Linked DNA regions of Homo sapiens. The protein of the gene in region 3 purifies or fractionates together with the protein of the main gene of each other region. This does not show direct contact. Each region holds a gene or a part of one and is shown on either strand. Other genes may lie near its edges.

What was found. Proteins that work in one complex are often made in the same cells at the same time.
Region 1: the proteins of NR2E1 (region 3) and POLR1F purify together in Homo sapiens (affinity purification with mass spectrometry, with the first as the bait; one large-scale study listed by BioGRID). This does not show direct contact.
Region 2: the proteins of NR2E1 (region 3) and TNRC6C purify together in Homo sapiens (affinity purification with mass spectrometry; 3 studies listed by BioGRID and IntAct, with this or other methods). This does not show direct contact.
Region 4: the proteins of NR2E1 (region 3) and SUFU purify together in Homo sapiens (affinity purification with mass spectrometry; 3 studies listed by BioGRID and IntAct, with this or other methods). This does not show direct contact.

Annotation. Positions count from the first base shown.
Region 1 is NC_000007.14:19,705,247-19,710,290, reverse strand, and holds the start of POLR1F (DNA-directed RNA polymerase I subunit RPA43), read left to right. Parts: upstream 1-1,253; 5' UTR 1,254-1,274; coding exon 1,275-1,528; intron 1,529-4,854; exon of another isoform or gene 4,855-4,933; intron 4,934-5,044. UniProt on the Homo sapiens protein: Component of RNA polymerase I (Pol I), a DNA-dependent RNA polymerase which synthesizes ribosomal RNA precursors using the four ribonucleoside triphosphates as substrates.
Region 2 is NC_000017.11:78,087,693-78,092,193, reverse strand, and holds part of TNRC6C (trinucleotide repeat-containing gene 6C protein), read right to left. Parts: intron 755-4,501; coding exon 587-754; intron 1-586. UniProt on the Homo sapiens protein: Plays a role in RNA-mediated gene silencing by micro-RNAs (miRNAs). Required for miRNA-dependent translational repression of complementary mRNAs by argonaute family proteins.
Region 3 is NC_000006.12:108,171,845-108,176,952, forward strand, and holds part of NR2E1 (nuclear receptor subfamily 2 group E member 1), read left to right. Parts: intron 1-2,991; coding exon 2,992-3,079; intron 3,080-4,658; coding exon 4,659-4,894; intron 4,895-5,108. UniProt on the Homo sapiens protein: Orphan receptor that binds DNA as a monomer to hormone response elements (HRE) containing an extended core motif half-site sequence 5'-AAGGTCA-3' in which the 5' flanking nucleotides participate in determining receptor specificity.
Region 4 is NC_000010.11:102,629,462-102,633,962, forward strand, and holds the end of SUFU (suppressor of fused homolog), read left to right. Parts: intron 1-604; coding exon 605-694; 3' UTR 695-4,074; downstream 4,075-4,501. UniProt on the Homo sapiens protein: Negative regulator in the hedgehog/smoothened signaling pathway. Down-regulates GLI1-mediated transactivation of target genes. Down-regulates GLI2-mediated transactivation of target genes. Part of a corepressor complex that acts on DNA-bound GLI1.

The DNA.
Region 1 (5,044 bases), on a different chromosome or scaffold from region 3:
TATTGGTTGGGTTTTTCTTGGTTTCGTTTCTTTGGAGGAGGGATAAATTGTGGGGGGCTACTGTAGTGAACAATACAGATATTATGGTCCCCACTTTAGTGAGTGTAGGAATCTATTGATGGAACAGGCAAGCAAAGACAGTTAATAAAAAATTAACATAAAAACCAACATAGATGGGTAACTACCTAATCCTTATAGAGAAAGAGGAGTGGGGTGCTTGAAAACTCTTTGCAAAGGTATAGAATGTAAAATCTAAGCTAGAAATTCATACATGAGTAGAATTTACCCTTGTGAAAAATGCTATTATATTCCCTGGTGGAAGGAACAGCGTGAGACTGCACAAAGAGAGACCTGAAAGTAGATCAAGCAGCATGATAATATTAGGGTGGGGAGTGTGACAAATGAAGCTGAAGAGAGAGGCTGTGTGCCCACGCAGATCACAAAATGGCCTTGTAACTTATAAGCCATTTTCATGAGTTTGTGTTGTCCTAGAGAAAATGGGGTGCCTATGTAGGGCTTAAACAGGGCACAACACGATCATATGTATTTCAGGGAAGATCTGGCTGCCCCAGAGTGTCCTCCTGACCATTGAGCTAGGCTTCCACAGGCAGGGAGTCCTGCGGTTTTGGCGGCAGGGAAAGAGAATAGTGTCCAAATAGAATGATATTTCCACTTTGGGCAATACAGGTCTTCAGGCTGATTTGATACTTGGGGATACAAAAGAGGATCCGAGGCTGACAGCTTGGCTGTATGATTCCCTGATTTAGCAGTTGCATAATGAGAAGAGAAGCGGGACAGGAGAGAACTAGTGGGTTCGTTTTCAGATGCGTTGCATTACAATTATCAGGCCTGCTTAGGATTCCGTGTACTGCATAAAATATACTCCATAAATATTTTGATTTTTTATTGTACAGTCCAAGCCTGTAAAATTCTACCAAACCCACCTCACTACTGGAAATGATCAAAGTGAGAACCCCCATTTTTAAGCTACCTACTTAATCCAATAAGCCTCTGTGCGAAAACACACATTTGCCTGCCCTTAAAAGAGCAGTCGGTTGGCTTTCCTGCGTGCTCAATGCATTTCCGAGGCTCTAAGCTCCCGTTCTCGAAGCGCGAAAACGCGGTTCCCCCTGCTGGTCAGGGCTGCGTAATGCAGCGAAAAGAGGGGAAATTCCTAGGGGCGTGGTCGTTGGTGGATGGCGTAAAACGAGCGCCGGGGACATGGGATTGTGCTTGCGTCAACGGCGCGCGCCGTGGGAACCTTGACAAGCAGCATGGCTGCAGGTTGCTCAGAGGCGCCGCGGCCAGCGGCGGCTTCTGATGGGTCTCTGGTAGGGCAGGCTGGCGTCCTGCCTTGCCTAGAGTTGCCGACTTATGCCGCTGCTTGTGCGCTGGTGAACAGTCGCTACTCATGCCTGGTGGCCGGGCCGCACCAAAGGCACATCGCGCTGTCGCCCCGCTACCTTAACAGGAAACGCACCGGCATTCGAGAACAGCTTGATGCGGAGCTCCTTCGCTATTCTGAGAGGTACCGATCTCTTTGCCTGTTCCTTCTTTTGTGCACGGGAAGTAAAGCAGGTGGATGTGCTGACGACGCAGCAGAAAGGGGCAAATGGCAAAGGTCGCATTGCCCCCCAGAGCTTAGCCCCCTGGATTTCTAGAGTCGCGATCCGTCCCTCAAGGCCAGTACCGCTCTGGTAAAGATCTATACAGGGTCCCTTTCATAGATAGAGAAGAAAACTTAAAGATGAAGTTCAGGTGTGGGCGGAGGGAGTGGAGATTCTTGCTCCAGAACCCTGGTGTAGGGGTAGGAAAAGACCAGGGATCTGGAGACCTAGTAGGCCCAGTTCTGTTTGGCATTCAACGTTTCATTTATCCCCTTACGGATGATGCTTTCTCATTTGACGATAAAAATCTGGTTTGCAGTGCTTGAGTAGATTCTCATTCCATAGAAGATAGCATACGAAGCATTAGTACAACCGTTCTATTTGTAAAACATGAAGGACCTTTTTTGTTGTTGGATTTCGCTCTGGTAATTTCCCCATTTTCTCTTCTCTTGGACCTGATCTGGGGATTATGAAAATGCCATTAGTTTAGCGGGATTTTGTTGTTTTTAAGAAGATTTATTCAGTCGAACTAGTGAGCCTGTTGCTTTGGGGAGAGAAAAAACCAAAACGTATGCATTTATATTACGGTATTCAAAAGTGACTTGAAAACTTAGAATTACAGAGGTGTGGGGCGGGGGGCGCGGGCATGTGCTTGAGTATTCCTCTGGACTATACTTTGGTTTAAAAGCGGGGTTCTAAAACTAGAGGGAATGGATTCTCTAGGGATTCATGATTGCCCTTCAGGAATTCCTATGTGAAGTTCCTTGGGCACTGCATCGGAAGTTTTTATCAGTTTCTTAAGGGATCCTGGACCTCCACCCATGTCTAGAATCTGCAGATTCTTCCAAGCACCAATATACACTTCTTGTATGTTTATATTACATACCGAACACTTGAGATACAAAAACAAAAAATAAAATCTCTGTTTCAAGGAGCTTTAAGCTGTAGGAGAGATACAAATACAAGCCAATAAATAGTAAAGTGTTAAAATTTGACAGAAATCTAATAAGATAAGGAGTGTAGAATTTGGATCTTGGGACCTTTGAGAACAACTTGATTGAAGAGGGTACTTTAACATGGTAACATTCCAGGCAAAGAGAGTGGCATAAACAAACGGATACTGGATGTGAACTGGTATGCTTTGCCCAGAGAACTGTATCTATTATATAAGTAGAATAAGGTTTATGTCAGGGGAAAGGCATTGGATGCCATTGGAGAGGAGGGCAGGGGGTCAAAGATGACTCAGAGAGGATGGCCATTTTGCTTTTCCCTTCCTGCCATTGCCAGTTTTTGTTATTTTGGGGGTAAGGTGGGGTTGTTGTTGTTTTTCCTTTTGTGTTTCTGTTTTCTTAAGCAGGGTTAGTGCTCCGTCCTCTCAGTCCCTTTAACGCTGAGACTTGGCACACTTTTGAGAAACTAGTACTTCTCTGCAGTCCCTGGCATATCAGATTTGCAGTTTAAGAAACAACATTTACTTAATGGTTAGCTACCAAATAGGATGAGAAAGTGGACAAGGAGAGGAATTAAGATAATGTTATAATTGTCCAAGAGAAAATGATTAGAGAGGATGGATTTGAGAAATTAAAGGATATACAAAGTAGTCATAACATTTGGAAACACAAGCAACTATCTTGTTTTCTGTAACCAGTACTGCCTGCACTTGACAGGCTAGAGGGGGAAATCACGCAGAGTGGCTCTGAACAGATCTGGACACCACTCCTTCCATATTACTTGGGTATGCTGTTTATTCAAGTGCAAATCAGGCACCACACTTTGAACTATGCATTACTAATAAGGGACAAAACATTGAACATATAGTATTAAAGAACTGAAGTGAGGCTACCACCTTGCCCTGATACCTATTTAGGATGGTATCTGAAAAACAAAAGTGAAGGAGGAAAAAGTATATAGTGTTGGGTGCCTGTGTTCACATATCTGATGACTTTTAACAAAATCCCCCTTGAATTTATATACTGCTAAGTTCCTGAAAATTTTAATATATATTAAAACTGTGCAAAGATGACTTTGTGTTGATGTGTTTTAAGAGTTAAATTAGGTGCCTAGCTATTTGTAAATAGATTTGTCCTTTTATTCAAAAGTCAGAGCGAAGGACATTTCCTCATTGTATCAGACTGTCCTGTACATGACAGACTCTTTTCTTCCCTGGCTTCTGCAAAGTTTGTGATAACCATGACTAGTATCACAAATTTCCACATGTCCCCCCTTCCACCAGGGGACCACAGCCCTCCTTCCCCTTGAGAATCACTCTGATACTTGAGAGACAAGGCTTTGATTAGCGGAAATAAAGTCTTGATAATTTGTTTTTCTGTCTAGTATGGCAGTTAATTTTTCTTCCTATTCTCTGTTTTCTGTGTCCCTAACATTGTCTTAGTGATAGGATGATTCCAGCTTAGGAATGCCACATGCGGAAATTAAAACCTCAGAAAATTGCTTTCCCGAGTAAGTCTCTGAGTTAGGGTTTTCCTAATTTGGTAATTCTTAAAGTGTATTTTCTGTGGCTTCTGGCTGTTTTACTAAACAACATCTGTTAGGGATAAATTCTTTCCCTTATTTTATGTGAATTGTTAGAAGTTTGAGTTCAACAAAAAATATTCTTTGCTATCAAAGGCCTTAGAGTCATGTGTGAAATTCAAACATATATACAGATAGGTTCAATACAATTAGATTAAGAACAGTGAGAAAGTTGGCCTATAGGAGTAGAGGAATGATTTCAGCTTTGCCTGGGGGAGTCAGGGAAGTTTTCTCCAACAAGTAGTGGGTGTGGTAATGAAGCCACCAGGTTTTGTTTGTTTTGTTGTTTTTTGTTCCTTTGTTTGAGATGGAGTCTCCCTCTGTCGCTCAGGCTGGAGTGCAGTGCTGAGATCTCAGCTCACCACACCCTCCGCCTCCCACCACTAGGTCTTTCTCCTTAATAGTTATAATTCCTTAAAAGCTAAGAAATAACAGTTTGAAAAATAGTTGTCCCTTAATCATGACTGTTACATTTGTAGACTAAAGTGTCAGTCAGTTCCTAAATAATGTAGTTGTATTAACATTTGCATTTACTATCAACAGTTGAAGTTTGGGATTTTCTCTATTAAGTCATTGACTTTAAAATTCAGGGGCTTCAGCTTTAACCGTAATGCTTCCCTTGTTATACGCCGTCAAGTACTGAAATTCAGTAATGGTGAATAATACCAAAATTGCCTCTTATTCAGTCATGTCCACAGAGATACACATTTTCTTTGCTAAGTCCCTTCTTTCTATCCTAGTATAACTTGAAGAATTCAAATAGTCATGCTAGGATAGAAAGAATGGGACTTGGCCAGGGAAGAAGAGTTGATTTACTGCTAATGCATTAATTGGGCATTTTGTTTCTGTGTATCTTGAGTCATCATTTTAACTTAGCCAACACATCAGAATCCATTGGTGAAATG
Region 2 (4,501 bases), on a different chromosome or scaffold from region 3:
TTTCCTTTGCTGTTTATTCTACCAGGAAGTTCAGAGTTAAATTTAATGCTTGAGAGTGAGATTACCTCCTATGGTTATCATTTTTGCTTCCACCTTACTCGTGTGTCCATCAGTAAAGAGTTCCCGATGGGGACACCAGTTTGGAGTAAGACAGACTGCTTGGATGGAGGGGAATAACCAACAGAAATGCACCCTAGTATTTACAGCTGCAGTTCCCATACATACTGTATATTTGATTTTCTATTTATGTTTTACCATTTTATTGAAAACATTTCAGCAGACTCAAGTTTTTGTTGATGAATATAGATACATAAAAAAAGTACACAGGCTATGACCTAGATTCTTTGCTGCTCTGGGGTTTTCAAATTATTTCTAAGTTTGTAGCTAAGATCTAATGGTTGGGTTTTAAGAAGTTTGATCAGTGACTAGCTGAGATCTTATATGCACTATAATGGAATGGGTTATTTTAAATCCAACTTTCAGTGCTCAATTCTTAGAAAAGTATAGAATGGCCATGCTATACAACAGGACGATCGATTAATAAGCCAGCAGTGATCCCACCACAGGCATCCTAGCTCAGACGTACCATGCTTGCTAGGGTTCTGCTCCAGGGGGGAAGCGGCACTGGGCAAGTTATCCATGGAGTTGGGGTGCGTCCACTGGGGGAGGCGTGACTGGGACTGGGATGGGTCCTTCACCGACAAGCCACCGGTCATGTCCATGCTGTTGACATTCATGTTTGGGTTCAGTCCAGCTAAAGAGAGAGATGCGGTTAGGATTCGCCTGCTCCTCTAAATGACTTCATTCTAAAGCTCTCCTATAGAAGCTATTTCAGTCTTCGCTTACAGCAAATTTTTTTTTTTTTTTGAGACGGAGTCTTGCTCTTGATGCCCAGGCTGGAGTGCAATGGCACAATCTTGGCTCATTGCAACCTCCGCCTCCCAGGTTCAAGCGATTCTCCTGCCTCAGCCTCCCAAGTAGCTGGGATACAGCAAAATATTTTAACTATAACTTTTAGTGCTGGTGAAAAAATACTACTTATCGTCATAACAACATGTATTTCTAGGAATATTATTCCTAAATTAAGGTGAAAATGTGAATAGTCTTTGATTAAGTAAGGCCCACAATTCTCTTCATTTTACTTGTTTCAGTGCTGAATAAACATGGTCCTGAGGCTTCTCAGAGTCCACAGGAAAATAGAAAAAGTCCAAACTATTAGGAAAATCTTTCTTTGTTTTGGGATATCTTACGGAAACTCATCAGGTCAAAAACACTTTTCCAGAACTCTAAAGTACCACCTATGAAACAGACTGATAGGATAATTCAGTTCTACCTTTAGTGAGTTTCCTTTACAAAAGTCTGCTCTGAAAGAGTCTGTGAATTAAGTATCAAACTACTTTTAAGGAACTGAACTATTTGACAGCGGGGGTGCTGCCATCTGCCCCCAGCTGGGATGGTGAGCTGAGGCTTCTGGGCTCATTCCTTATAGCTAAAAGCAGGTACCTGGTTATTTGTCCAGGACCTGCACTAAGCTAGGTTAATAAAGAAAGATGATGAGGAGGACAATGAAAAGAAGGTTGAAGTAAAGAGTTTCTGATGAGGACACTAGTTTGGAGCAGGACAGACTGCTTGTTTGGAAGGGAATAACCAGCACAAGCGCCCCCCTCCCCTTGTATTTCCAGCTGCAGTTCCCCTTACCACATACACATACCCCATAGGTCCTTACCGTAAGTACTACGCCACACGGTACGTAAGCACAGTGAGCCTCTACTACTTAGCCAGGTGCTGAACATTCTGGTTCTTACCTTTATTTCAGAGGCTGCAAATTCAAATGCCCATAGGAGCCAGGTGGGCCATGCACATGAAGAAGTGGGCTTCATGGGGACTGTGGCAAACCAGAGAGTGTCTGTCCTGTCTAAATAAACAGGTGCTACTGGGGCCAACCACCTATTGCTACCTGGAACATAGACCCACTATAGCCATTTTTAAGAGAAGCCAGAAGCCACTTTCCCCAATTTTTGAATGTTGGCATTAACACACACCTATGCACATGCACACACACACTTCGCAGACCTAACAAAACGCCTTTGCAAGCCCATCAGTGCCACAGGGCTGCCTACTTGCAATCTCTGCTGTGTGGGTTCTTTTCGTTTCAGCTTGTACAGATCTAGCCAGGTAAGGTGGCAACAATGTCAGGGCTTCAACCTGGCCTTCAGAATGCTCCAAATTTCACAATTTGGCGCCAACCCATCTCTCCCAACTTTCCCCTCTGGGAAAGTCAGCTAGACTGGCCTGGCCCTTGCAAAATGGGCCCCTGAAACAAGCCAGGCCTCTTTCTTCTGTGCTACGTGAGGCTTCCCCTTTATTTGGAAAGGCTTCCTCTTTATTTACTGTAATCCTATCCAATCATTTGAGGTTCAAGCTTAATCCTACTCTCTGATTTTTCTTTCACCACTCAAAGTGAAAGTGAACTTTTCCTTCTCTAGAGCCCTGTAAGAATCACATGACACTGGTATCAAGGTTATTTTTTCCCATTTATATGCCTGCTCTTCCTATCTAGATGGCGAACTCCAGGTGGCAAAAGACTGAGAATAACAACGACAGGCTGAACATGAGGGAAGGAAGGTAGCTAGGAGCCCCCACTACTGACCATGGGCTGCTGGTTTCTTTACATGAATTGATGAGTGTCTAACAGGCTCTTCAACATAGGTGCTGCTGCAGAGAAATGCTGAGAGCCAACAAGATAGGCAATTTTACAACCAAAGTTTCCTAGACTTTATTAGTTATTTGCTTTTAATACATTTATAACTTTACTGTGAATATTATAAAATATTATCCAAATTATTTTTCAACTAATTTCAAAGATTCACTGCATGAATTCTTTAACTTGTACTAAGAGAAAAAATCCTTAAGAGTAAAGATAAGTGGTCGGGCACGGTGGCTCACGCCTGTAATCCCAACACTTTGGGAGGCTTAGGTGAGCGGATCACTTGAGGTCAGGAGTTTGAGACCAGCCTGGCCAACATGGTGAAACCCAGTCTCTACTAAAAATACAAAAATTAGCCAGGCGTGGTGATGCATGCCTGTAATCCCATCAATTTGGGAGGCTGAGGCAGGAGAATTGCTTGAATCCAGAAGGTGGAGGTTGCAGTGAGCCGAGACTGCGCCATCGCACTCCAGCCTGGGCAACAGAGCAAGACTCTATCTCAAAAAAAAAAAAAAAAAAAAAAAAAAGTAACGATAAGTGTACTTTATCCTCCAAATATAGGTTAAGAAGACAGGTGAATAATAGAAAGCTGAAGCTAATGCATTTTAGGATAATAGGTGGGATGAAATTTGTTTCTAAAACAGAAGCACTTACATAAGTAGCTGACATTTTACAAAGTGTTTGCTATGTGCTAGGCACTATTTAAGAACTTTACATATTAGGCCAGGTGTGATGGCTCATGCCTGTAATCACAGCACTTTGGGAAGCTGAGACCAGCAGGATCACTTAAGGCCAGGAGTTTGAGGCTGCAATGAGCTATGATCACGCCACTGCACTCCAGCCAAAAAAAAAAAGAGAGAGAAAAAAAAAAGAAAAAAGAGAACTTTACATATTAGCTCATTTAATCTTTAAAACAAACCTAGGAGTTAAGTATTTCCACATTACAGATGAAGAAATTAAGGCATGGCTCAGTATGGTGTCTCAGGCCTGTAATCCTAACACTTAGGGAGGATCACTTGAGGCCAGGAGTTTTGAGACTTGCCTGGGCAACATAGAAAGACCCTGTCTCTACCAAAAAAAAAAGAAAGAAAAATAAAGAAATTGAAGCAAACAGCAGCTAGGCAAGTTGCCCAAGTTAGTAGTGAGCCTCTTGGTGGTGAGTTGGGACTCAAACCTAGGGAGTCTAATTCCTAAGTCAGGTCTTACCTACTTCGACACAAAGGGCTCTAATGGATGAGACAATAATTAAGGAACGAGATCATCTAGTCTAGTATTTATCAATCTCATATTAAAGATATACCACATTTATAATATGTCAAGTAAAAAGGATTCATATGATTACAATATACCGCTCTTTTCAGAGACATTGAATAGAATTAGATAAATGAATATTATCTGCTGGCAGCAAATTCACTACCACTCAACTGGCCTTTGCCCCTTTACAGATGTATTTTCCAAGTTACCGATAACCCTTTGTCCTGTATCTACAGACTCTAATAGCAATCAACAGACAAGCCTAAAGTGCTTTCACTAACTTCTGAATTCTTACGGCAAATTAGTCCATGCAGAATCAATTTACTAATTTATACCCTCTGGTGTCTTCAGGTATGTGAGCTGTGTCTCTCCTGACTGGCCTGACCTCGAGGCCTGGCACCATGTCTTCTACTGACCTGCGGGTTTCAAGTGCTGAGTGTGCTTCTACAAGTTAGATTTCAACATATATATGTTGATTTGGTCGATTATACAAATCACATTTCATACAAAATGAGTTGTATCAACAACCACTGCTTTTTA
Region 3 (5,108 bases):
CTTTTTTAAATTATTATTATTCTGAAAGATTTTGACACTGGGTAAGGCCCACACCCTGTGGCTCTAAAGCCGGCCCAAGGGACCTAAAGAATTTAGCATCTAAACCACAAGTAGCAAGCAGGAGAAAGAGCTTTGTTATTGTGCCTGCCCACCCCACACTCACTCCTAGCAGCATCAAGCTCAGTCCCCTGATCACTTGCCTGGGATGCAGAAGTAAGCGGCACACAGACATCTGAGTCAAGGTCACCACCACCTTTAGCTGAGACCACCAAGTGAGTGCTAGCCACTTGGAAGAGAGGCCGTGCTTTCTGAAGGGTTGTGCATTTTCAACTCTGGAGAAGCAGGGCTGCTCTGGAAGTGGGCAGTGGGAATCCAGCACCCATGTGACCTTAGCTATGCCTTGTCAGAAAAGGGCAGGGTGAGGAAGAAGAGAAGATTCAAAAGGAAGGTGCAACTGGGACCCTCCTCAAGCTTCCATATCCCTGTCCTCCTTCTCTGCTTAGAATTTGGGCCCAGTCGGTTGTTTTGGTCTTGAGTAGGCAGAACTGTCTCAAAGAGACAGAGGAATCTGGCATGGGCTGAATATGAGCCAAAGCTTCTAGAAAGAGTGAGCAGAACCTCTTGACTCAGTTTCCAGCTCAATAATAGGCTGATTTTAACTAAGGAGATCAACCTTCTGGTCCTACACTTTGCCCTCTCCTTATCAGCGACTCAGACCCTCAGTACAGAGTCCTCCATTTCACTTGTGGAAAGATCCCTGAGGGTGCATTAGTCAGCAGTCATCCTTTGGTAACAAAATAGTAAAACACTTTTCACTAATTGATATATATAGGGTACATGTATACACATGCATATATTGTCTGCTGCTAGTGAATTGTTCTGACATCTTTTTCTGAAGTCATGTCTGCTCATATTGTTTTCTAATAGTTTTGGATTAACCACAAAAACAGAAGATATTTGCATTGAGATAAATTTTGAGCTCTCTAGCCCTGTTACCTGTTTAATTGGCTACTGTATCAGTTTCTAGCTTCACCATATGGACACATCACATTTTACACGCATAGGACTGTATCCCAATAACTCCACAGGATTGTGCGATTACTGCGGGTTGTCAGATTTGAACCAACTTCTACTTAGATTGTCTTTTGCTTTTATGCAGTGAACAGAATTGGAAAATCAAGATCTCTGATGTTGTGCTTGATCTTTTAGAAGGGGATGGCTATCAATTCAAGCATATTGATATCAGTCCAAGTGCTTGTAAAGGACTGATAATAGACTCATCAGGCCTGGTGTTCTTCTTGCAAGGAGAGTAAATGATCAGAGCTGAGGCGTTTATCCTTCTCTCTGGCGCTAGATATTTATATACATTTGATCTGATTTGAAGACACACTTAAGAACTTATGAAGGTTTCCATTTTGCATTTGCATACTTATAAGAATACTGGAAAGATACCATCTGAGGATAGATATATAATTACATTTAATAACAAGTTTTAAAAAACCTGTTTACAATGAACTATTACATTGGCCAGCAAAGATGCCCTAAATAATTCACTTTGGACCCAAAAATTATCTCCTTTCTCTCTTATTCTAGGATTAAATTATATTCCAATTTATTATTAACAGTAATGAGGACATTTAGAAATGGATATGAACATCTGTCCCACCTTTATTTTAAATAAATCATCATAATTTAAATTGGAGAAGTGTGAACTCATAAAACTGCATTCGAATGTGTAATTTTCCCCTAAAGGGCTTCAGGGGGAAGAAAAACATACTTACTCCAACTCCAGAGTATATGAATTTTTGAGATTATGAAGCAAAATAAAAATACATTTATTATCTTTCTTCTCACTACAAATCTAACAGTAGCAACTTCTATAAATATAGGAGAGCACACAATGTCTTAAATATTTTCTGTGTATAAAACTCATGCACATGACTCTTTATGTATCTATGCATATGTCCCCTCGGTAATGACATCTAACACTGAATAAATTCCAAAGGAAACTTTATCTGTAGATTTCCTCTTTCAATGGCTAATGTTTTTACAGAAAATTGCATTAGGTAAACATCTAATTTCTCATGCATCTCAGATAAATATTTCTAAAGAAGTGACTACCTTTATTTTTTCAGTTACTATGCTAACAGTCTGAGCCCATATTATCATTTAGTCTGACAGTCCATCACATTACCTTCCTGGTCCTGTTTACATGGTGAGCATTTCTATATTTTGCTCAAGACTTGAGCTCTTCCTTTTTCACCCTCATCTTCTCTAGGCCTTGCCCTCCTAAACTCTCACCTTCCAGGAAGGGCTGTGTTTCTATGCACCTGGGCCGAGGCTAGTCTTTAAGGCAACTCTCAACTTGCTGATAATAAGGTTGGCTTCATACAAAAGCAAAAGTGAGGTAATAGGAGAGTGAAGAATAAATGGGAGAGATTTATCTGATAGATAAACGGGCTCTCCCAGAAAGTGGCAGAAAGAGGTAGACTCAAGTACTGAAAGCAGAAAGAATCGTTGGTGGGAGGGCGGTATGGTGTGAATCCTGACCCAAAAGCCAGCTCTTAACGGAAGGAACTTAGTGGCCTCTTTCTCTGGGGCCAAGTCGCTGTCTTCGGTCCTGAAGTCTCGTCCCTGTTCCACCACTCCGCGACTGGCGGAAGTTCCCCTAGCGAGAGCCCCGCAGGCCTGCGGGGTCTGCCAAACCCGGCTCTCTAAGCTTCACCTGCTTGGAGAAGGACGTTTCCCCCTTGTCCGCTTTCTTGGGGTCCGGGACTGGCCCTCTTGAAGTAGCCTGGGACGTCCCAGCCCCTTCTCGATCTGGCCCTGCTCATGCCCAAGGCCCTCGCGTTTTGCAGGCCCAGGCTCGGGGCTCCAGGGCCTGCGGCCGGGCAAGGTCGCGCCTCCACACCGTTTCCCCGCCCGGGTGCCGGCTCCGGGTCTCCAGCCTAAAGGCCCTGGGGACCGCTGACCTCCTGCTCTCTGTTCCAGGGAGGCTGTCCGGTGGACAAGACGCACAGAAACCAGTGCAGGGCGTGTCGGCTGAAGAAGTGTTTGGAAGTCAACATGAACAAAGACGGTAATCAGTGCATCCCTTTATTCCAATGTTGATTGAGTAGTAAGTAAATTATATGTACAGAAAATACATGGCACTCCTATGCATGTAAATCAACCCCGGAGCGCTTCTTTCCAGATGCTGGGAATTGGCCTCGGGCTTTCAGTCGTATCCTTCCCGTCTTTCAGCAGGAGCCGCTGGCGACCCCTAGAATTCCCCAGGGCAAGACCCATGCCCACATCAGGAACTTGCGCCCCACAGTCATCTCCACACAGGCAGCGCTTGGGGGGACCCCACTCTCCAGGGGACCGGCGCGCATTTTCTGCCTCCGGTCCTAATCCCTCTTTGCAGCCCTTCGTGGCCACCCTTAAGCCTGCTAGCCTGCCCCAGGATCTTAAAATCTGGATAGTCTCACGGGGAGGAGATCATACAGGCTGGAAGTTCGCGGTGTGTTGAAAAAGGGAGGGCAGAGACGCGAAAACGCGGAATTTCCAGCCCGTGTGCAAATTCTCCAAGATGCCAAAATCAGTACGGCCATTGGGCCGATGTGAGTCCAGGGCCTTCTCTCTGTTCTACAGAAAAGAGGGAAAGGGGGCTGGAGAGGCAGGGTAACGCCCGTGGGTGCCTCGGACACCCAGCTCTCCCAAGGCTCTTAAGCGCGCAACAGCAAGAACCAGGACGTCAGAGTGCTTCCTGGGCCTGGAGCACGGTCCGAGCTGCGTCCCCCGCTGCAGCCTGTCGAGGGCGCCCCAGGCCCAGGCAGGGGGCGAGGGTAATGGGCTGGAGGACACCGTGGGGCCTGGGAACAGGGTGCGAGTGGGTTTTGCTGTGAGGCGGCCCGGGCCGGGTGGCAGCTCCAGGAGGAGAGAGAGCCCCTTCCTCTGCGGCGCAGGAAGCCGGAGGGAGCGTCCAACCTGTTGAACTTGTGTATTGACAAGTTGTCAAGCTCGGCAGGCCGAAGATTGCCCTGAATTAATTTGTTTGTTTAAACTGTTGGTGGTAATTGTCACATCTCCCCTGCCTTTCTCCAGCATACTCGGAGACGGGTTCTCCCTCGTTCCATTCCCTAGCAATCCCGGGGCTCGGGTCCTTTCCTCCTGCGGCCCTCGGAGGCCAAAAGCTATTTCTGTGGGGGCGGGGCCTGCGGGTAGGGAGGCTTGTTCTTGGACGGAGCTGGAAAAGTCTGCGCAGAAACGAGGTGTCTGGCGTGCGCGACGCTCCCTCTCTTTTGGATGGGGGCGAGGATACCTGGCTACTCCAGCCCAGAGGGTCTCTGGTTTCCCTGCGAACCCCCTTCCCTGGTGGGGAGGAGCCCTGGACCGAAGGAGAACACACCTGGTCTTACTTGAGGCTCTGCCATTATCGTGGCACTTTGAGCACGGGCCCCTCTTCTAAGCCTCAGCTTCCGAATCTATTCAGTGTAGTGGTTAGACGATCTCAGAATCCCTTCCTCCCTCAGATTCCCTCTCCCTTCTTCTTTTCACCTCTTGGGCGATTTTGCCCGCCCAGACTTGACATTGGGGCGGGGCTGGGGGGAGAGCCGCAGCGGCTGTGTCTCGACGTCTCTAATCGCCGGCATGCGTTTCTCTGTTTGCCTCTGCAGCCGTGCAGCACGAGCGGGGGCCTCGGACGTCCACCATCCGCAAGCAAGTGGCCCTCTACTTCCGTGGACACAAGGAGGAGAACGGGGCCGCCGCGCACTTTCCCTCGGCGGCGCTCCCTGCGCCGGCCTTCTTCACCGCGGTCACGCAGCTGGAGCCGCACGGCCTGGAGCTGGCCGCGGTGTCCACCACTCCAGAGCGGCAGACCCTCGTGAGCCTGGCTCAGCCCACGCCCAAGGTCAGCGGCCTTGCTGGGCCCAAAGAGACTCGTGCCAGCGAATGGAGAGGGACGCACCCAGTTCTTCTGAGCTGTGTGATTGGGGTCAGGCAAACTGGGGAGAGAACTCCAGGGTGCTTGGCGGGTCTCTGCATGGAGCTCCAGCCCTTCTGCTCTCCCTTGTTCAGCCAGGGGTGCTCAAACTTGAGTGTACAGTAGAGTCAACCTCCGAGTG
Region 4 (4,501 bases), on a different chromosome or scaffold from region 3:
GGTGGGGATTGGCCCCTCTCAGGCCCAAGGGATCACCTCAAACCACACTTGTCCCACTCTTCTGCTCCCACCAAGGCCGCAAGTGTGGTTCTGACTTTGGGGCCGAACTGGGGCCTCCTTCCCTTTGGAGCCTTTGGCCAAGTATACAGAGGACAGGTTCCAGGGTTCTTCCTGCACTAGCCTCTGAAAGAGAGGCCATGGCAGTGACAGAGCTCAGGCCACTTCCCCATAGCCTCCAGACCCTCCCCCAGCCCCCATCCTCCAGCCCCAGGGCCTCAGGGAGCAGATTCTTTACATGCCTGTGGCCAGAGGCAGAACCAAGGAAGTGAGCAAGAGGGAGGTCAGCTTAGTGGAGAAAGGAGGAGAAAACGCCCTCCTCCAACCTGCCTCATTATTGACAGGCCGTGGGGAAAGAAGGGGTCACCAACTCCAGCCGTTTGAGCCCAGCCTGCCACCTGGGTCTAGCATTTGAGAATGAAGCCACGCCTCCCGCGGCCTGTCCTATCCCTAGCTCCCCGGGGACAGGCCTGGGCAATCTCTGGAAAGACCACGGTGTATTCTGCTAACCACTCACACTCCTGGTCTGTGCTTGCTCCCTCCACAGTTCAAACTTCCCAAAGAGTACAGCTGGCCTGAAAAGAAGCTGAAGGTCTCCATCCTGCCTGACGTGGTGTTCGACAGTCCGCTACACTAGCCTGGGCTGGGCCCTGCAGTGGCCAGCAGGGAGCCCAGCTGCTCCCCAGTGACTTCCAGTGTAACAGTTGTGTCAACGAGATCTCCACAAATAAAAGGACAAGTGTGAGGAAGACTGCGCAGTGCCACCCCGCAGCCCAGTGGGGTGCCATGCACAGGCCACAGGCCCTCCACCTCACCTCCAGCTCAGGGGCCGCACCCCGCCGCTGGCTAAGCCTTGTGACCCATCAGGCCAGTGAGTGGGCAAATGCGGACCCTCCCTGCCTGCAGCCTGCACAGATTCTGGTTTGAGGTTTGACTCTGGACCCTGGCTGTGCCCCTAGGTGGAGACAGCCCTCTTTCTCACCTACCCCCTGCCGCACAGCCCAGCAGGAGGGAGGCGGACAGCCAGATGCAGAGCGAGTGGATGCACTTCCCAGCTCATCTCTGGAAGCCTTTGCTACTCAAGCTCCTCTGGCCGCGGAACAATTCCTCTGATCATGTTTGGTTTTCTTCTTCCTTATTTTATTTTGTAGAAACCGGGTGGTATTTTATTGCTCTGCAAAGATGTCCAGAAGCCATGTATATAATGTTTTTTAAACAGAACTTCATTCCCCGTTGAACTTTCGCATTCTCTGACAGAGGCCTAGGGCTGTATCTCTCCCTGGGCTGCCACCAGAGAAGGTGCTTGGTGTTCGCCTGCCAGCCCAGAGCCCTGGAGGAGCCGGCTGCACAGAGAGGCTTTTCTTCCCAGCTGGGCCTGGTGGAGCCCGGGGCAGGGGGAGAGTAGAGACACTCCCTTGTGCAGCTTTGAGCCTAGTTTAGCTGGGGCCAGGGAGGGGTGCTACTGTTTTCCAAGTGAATGGGTCTCAAAGACTTGGTGACCCCAGCCTCATCTTCTAGGCCTTTTCCACCCAACCAGGCCTACCTGGGAGAGGGTGAGGTTCAGCACATCACACACCATCCCCACTGTCATTCAGGGCCTGGGTCTCCAGCTCTGTAACCAGTCCTGTCCCATTTCCTCAGTCCCTGGGCCTCCCAGCCTTCAGGCTGTAGGGCTGCCTTACTAAAATTGAAAAATCCACCTCTTAACATCTCTTTCACTTTGGTTTTGCTAACACTGCTCTCTGCTGCCCTCCCATCCTCCCTGTATCCATTCATGCCCTATCTTTCATTCTCCACTCCTAATCCCTCTCCTTTCTGGCATCCTGGCCTCTCGTGGTCCTCAGCCCCTCACCCCCAGTACTGCAGATCTCACAGTTTGCCTTCCAGAAGCCAGCCTATCTCTAGCCCATGGTTTTGGAGTTCCTCTCGGGTTATCTCCCACGCCTGACCTGGAACCAGCAAGCCCCTTTCCTGCCTTCTTACCCCCAACTCTAGGGATGGGACTGTTACAATACTTCAAGATCACTCTTTACACCTCTTCAAAGCAAAGTCATGACAATGCAGGGCTCCTCATTGCTCCCATCTGCCTCTGCTGCACACACAGGCACCAGCAGGGATGCCACAGGAGTGCCCACAGGGTGCAGGACTCCACTGATGAGAGATCCAGCCAAAGAGCTGCCCCCAGGGGTATGAGGGCACCAGCTGGGTTCTCCAGGGAGCAGGAGTTGGACCTCCATGGAGCCACTAGGCCTGGCCTCCTCTACACATCCCCAGGGCTATCTGGTTAATTCCATCAAGCTCAGAGTTAAAAGGCATATCAGCCTGGAGTATTTGGGAGAGACTGGCTGCAGATCCCCGCCAGCCAAGATGCAAGCCACTCGGGACCTGATGTCGGCAGCTGTGCCTCTACTGCCCTGAGGACTTACCAGAGGGAGCCCTACTGGCCTTCCCCCACCACAGCAGCCCTGCCTGTGAAGCTCTTGTTTCTGACATTTCACAGGCAGAGAGGTGCCATCAGTTCGCCTCCATTCCTTGCCACCATGACCAGCCTCTCCCTGAACTCTCTCTTGCTCGGGACCTGCCTGAGGGCTCCCTGCTGCAGTTCGCCGTACTTCCATCTGCTGGGTGCCTCCATCGTTGGTTGGGTGGGGATGGGGCATTTTCTGAGCTAAGCTTTGTCATTAGTTTGTGAAGCACCTGGTCAGCAACCTGCCCCAGACCTGGAGGGTCTTTGTGGACTGAAGGTAGACACCAGCCAGCATGGTGGCCCTGTTCTGGGGGAGCAGGGTAAGGCAGGAGGAAGTGGGTGAGCTCCGAGATGATGAGCACATGAAGCCTGTGGCCCCTTCGTACCTGCAATATGTCAGGAGCCTCACGCTCACCCAAGATCCTGCAGGGGCCAGGCTCCATCTCACTGGCTCTGAGGGCAGGACAGGGTATCACACATTTCTCACCAGGCCTCCTTTCCTATGGGCATTGGTGCCTCCCAGAGGTTTCTTGGGCTGCTGGCTGGTGAGAGAGGACCCTTAAAGAAGATCAAGCCAAGCTGACCTTGGACCCTGTCCAGCACAGCTTCTGGCACAGGATGCTTGGTGAATGTACCCTTTCTTTCCCTCCCTGCAGCTCTGAGGGAGCCCCTGACCTTGTAGTGGGTGGAGGAGGTAAGGGGCCTCCCTCCCTAAATCTGCCTCTTCTGCAAGCTACTTGGAGACTTGCCTAGTTGTACCCACCCCTCCAGGTCCCTGGTGCTAGAGCTTCTGAGAAGGGCCTTTCCCTTTCCTCTTTGCCTGCTATATAAGGCAGGCTCCTGTGGCTCTGCTGGCTCAGTGTGGGCTGCAGGAGGACTGCAGACTCAGCTGCAATTCTGAGGGGGGTTTGGGAGGCTTGTGCGAGGTCTCAGGCCTGTGTGGGGAGCTGGTGCCTCTTCCTGCCCGTATCTTTCTCTTCCAAGGGCAGTGCTCCAAGGCAGGGACTGGAGAAGCCAAGGGGAGAGTCTAAAAGGGCTAGAGCATTTTTAAAAATAGACACAGGGTCTTGGGACTGGGGTTTCGGATTGAGTTGCAAGCAGGGAGAAAACCTGAAGGTCGGTGCCCCTATGGGGCTGACCAGTAGAGAATTTCCTTTACTGTATTTTTGTGTCTGGTCTTCCCTTTCTGGCTTCTAGGACATCCATGCCAGGTGAGGTGCCTGGGTCCCTGTTACAAGTCAGGAGCCCTGTAGGGAGACCCCTCCTTTTGTACAAGTACCTGAATGCTGCGACAAGCAGATTTTTGTAAAATTTTATATTAGTTTTTAATGTCAGTGGCGACTCGGTTCCTGGGGCTGCAGCCAGCCTGGGACTTTTGTAAGAATTTTTGGGTGACTCACTTAGATGTCGTTTCCTTCTTGCCCCCTCTTCCTCTCTGTAATCTAAGTGCATTAAACATCTTTGCAGAAGTGCCTGGGTTGTGTGCTCATTTCTGGCTGCCTGAAGTAGTGGAGCCGGAAGCCCGGGGCCCTGGCAGAGGGAGTGGGTTGTTGTTAGCCACTTAGAAGCCAGGATGGAGGGAGGCCCCCAGGATTGTTGTCGAGAGTGGAGGAGGTGCCAGAGAGTGGGATCACACAGCTGGTGGCTCTTCAGTCTTGAAGAAATGACCTTGCAAGGACAGGCTCTCCCTCACTGGTCCTGAATTCCTCTAAGGTCAAGGGGGTGGGAGCGAGGAGCAGTCTGGGGAGATGAGGCGGTGGGAAAAGACCCTCTCCCTGCCACTACATCCCTCTTCTATCCTCCTCTCACCAAAAACCCCTTTTGCCTTAGGAAGAGGGGCCCAGACAGGTGAGGAGGGCAGGCCCTCCTCATCTCCTTTGGAGTCCTTGCCCGGCTTCCAGCTCCTCTCACATGACATCTAAATTCCACCTCCTAATCCAGGGCCCAGGGGCAGGATCCAGATAGAAGGGCAATTCA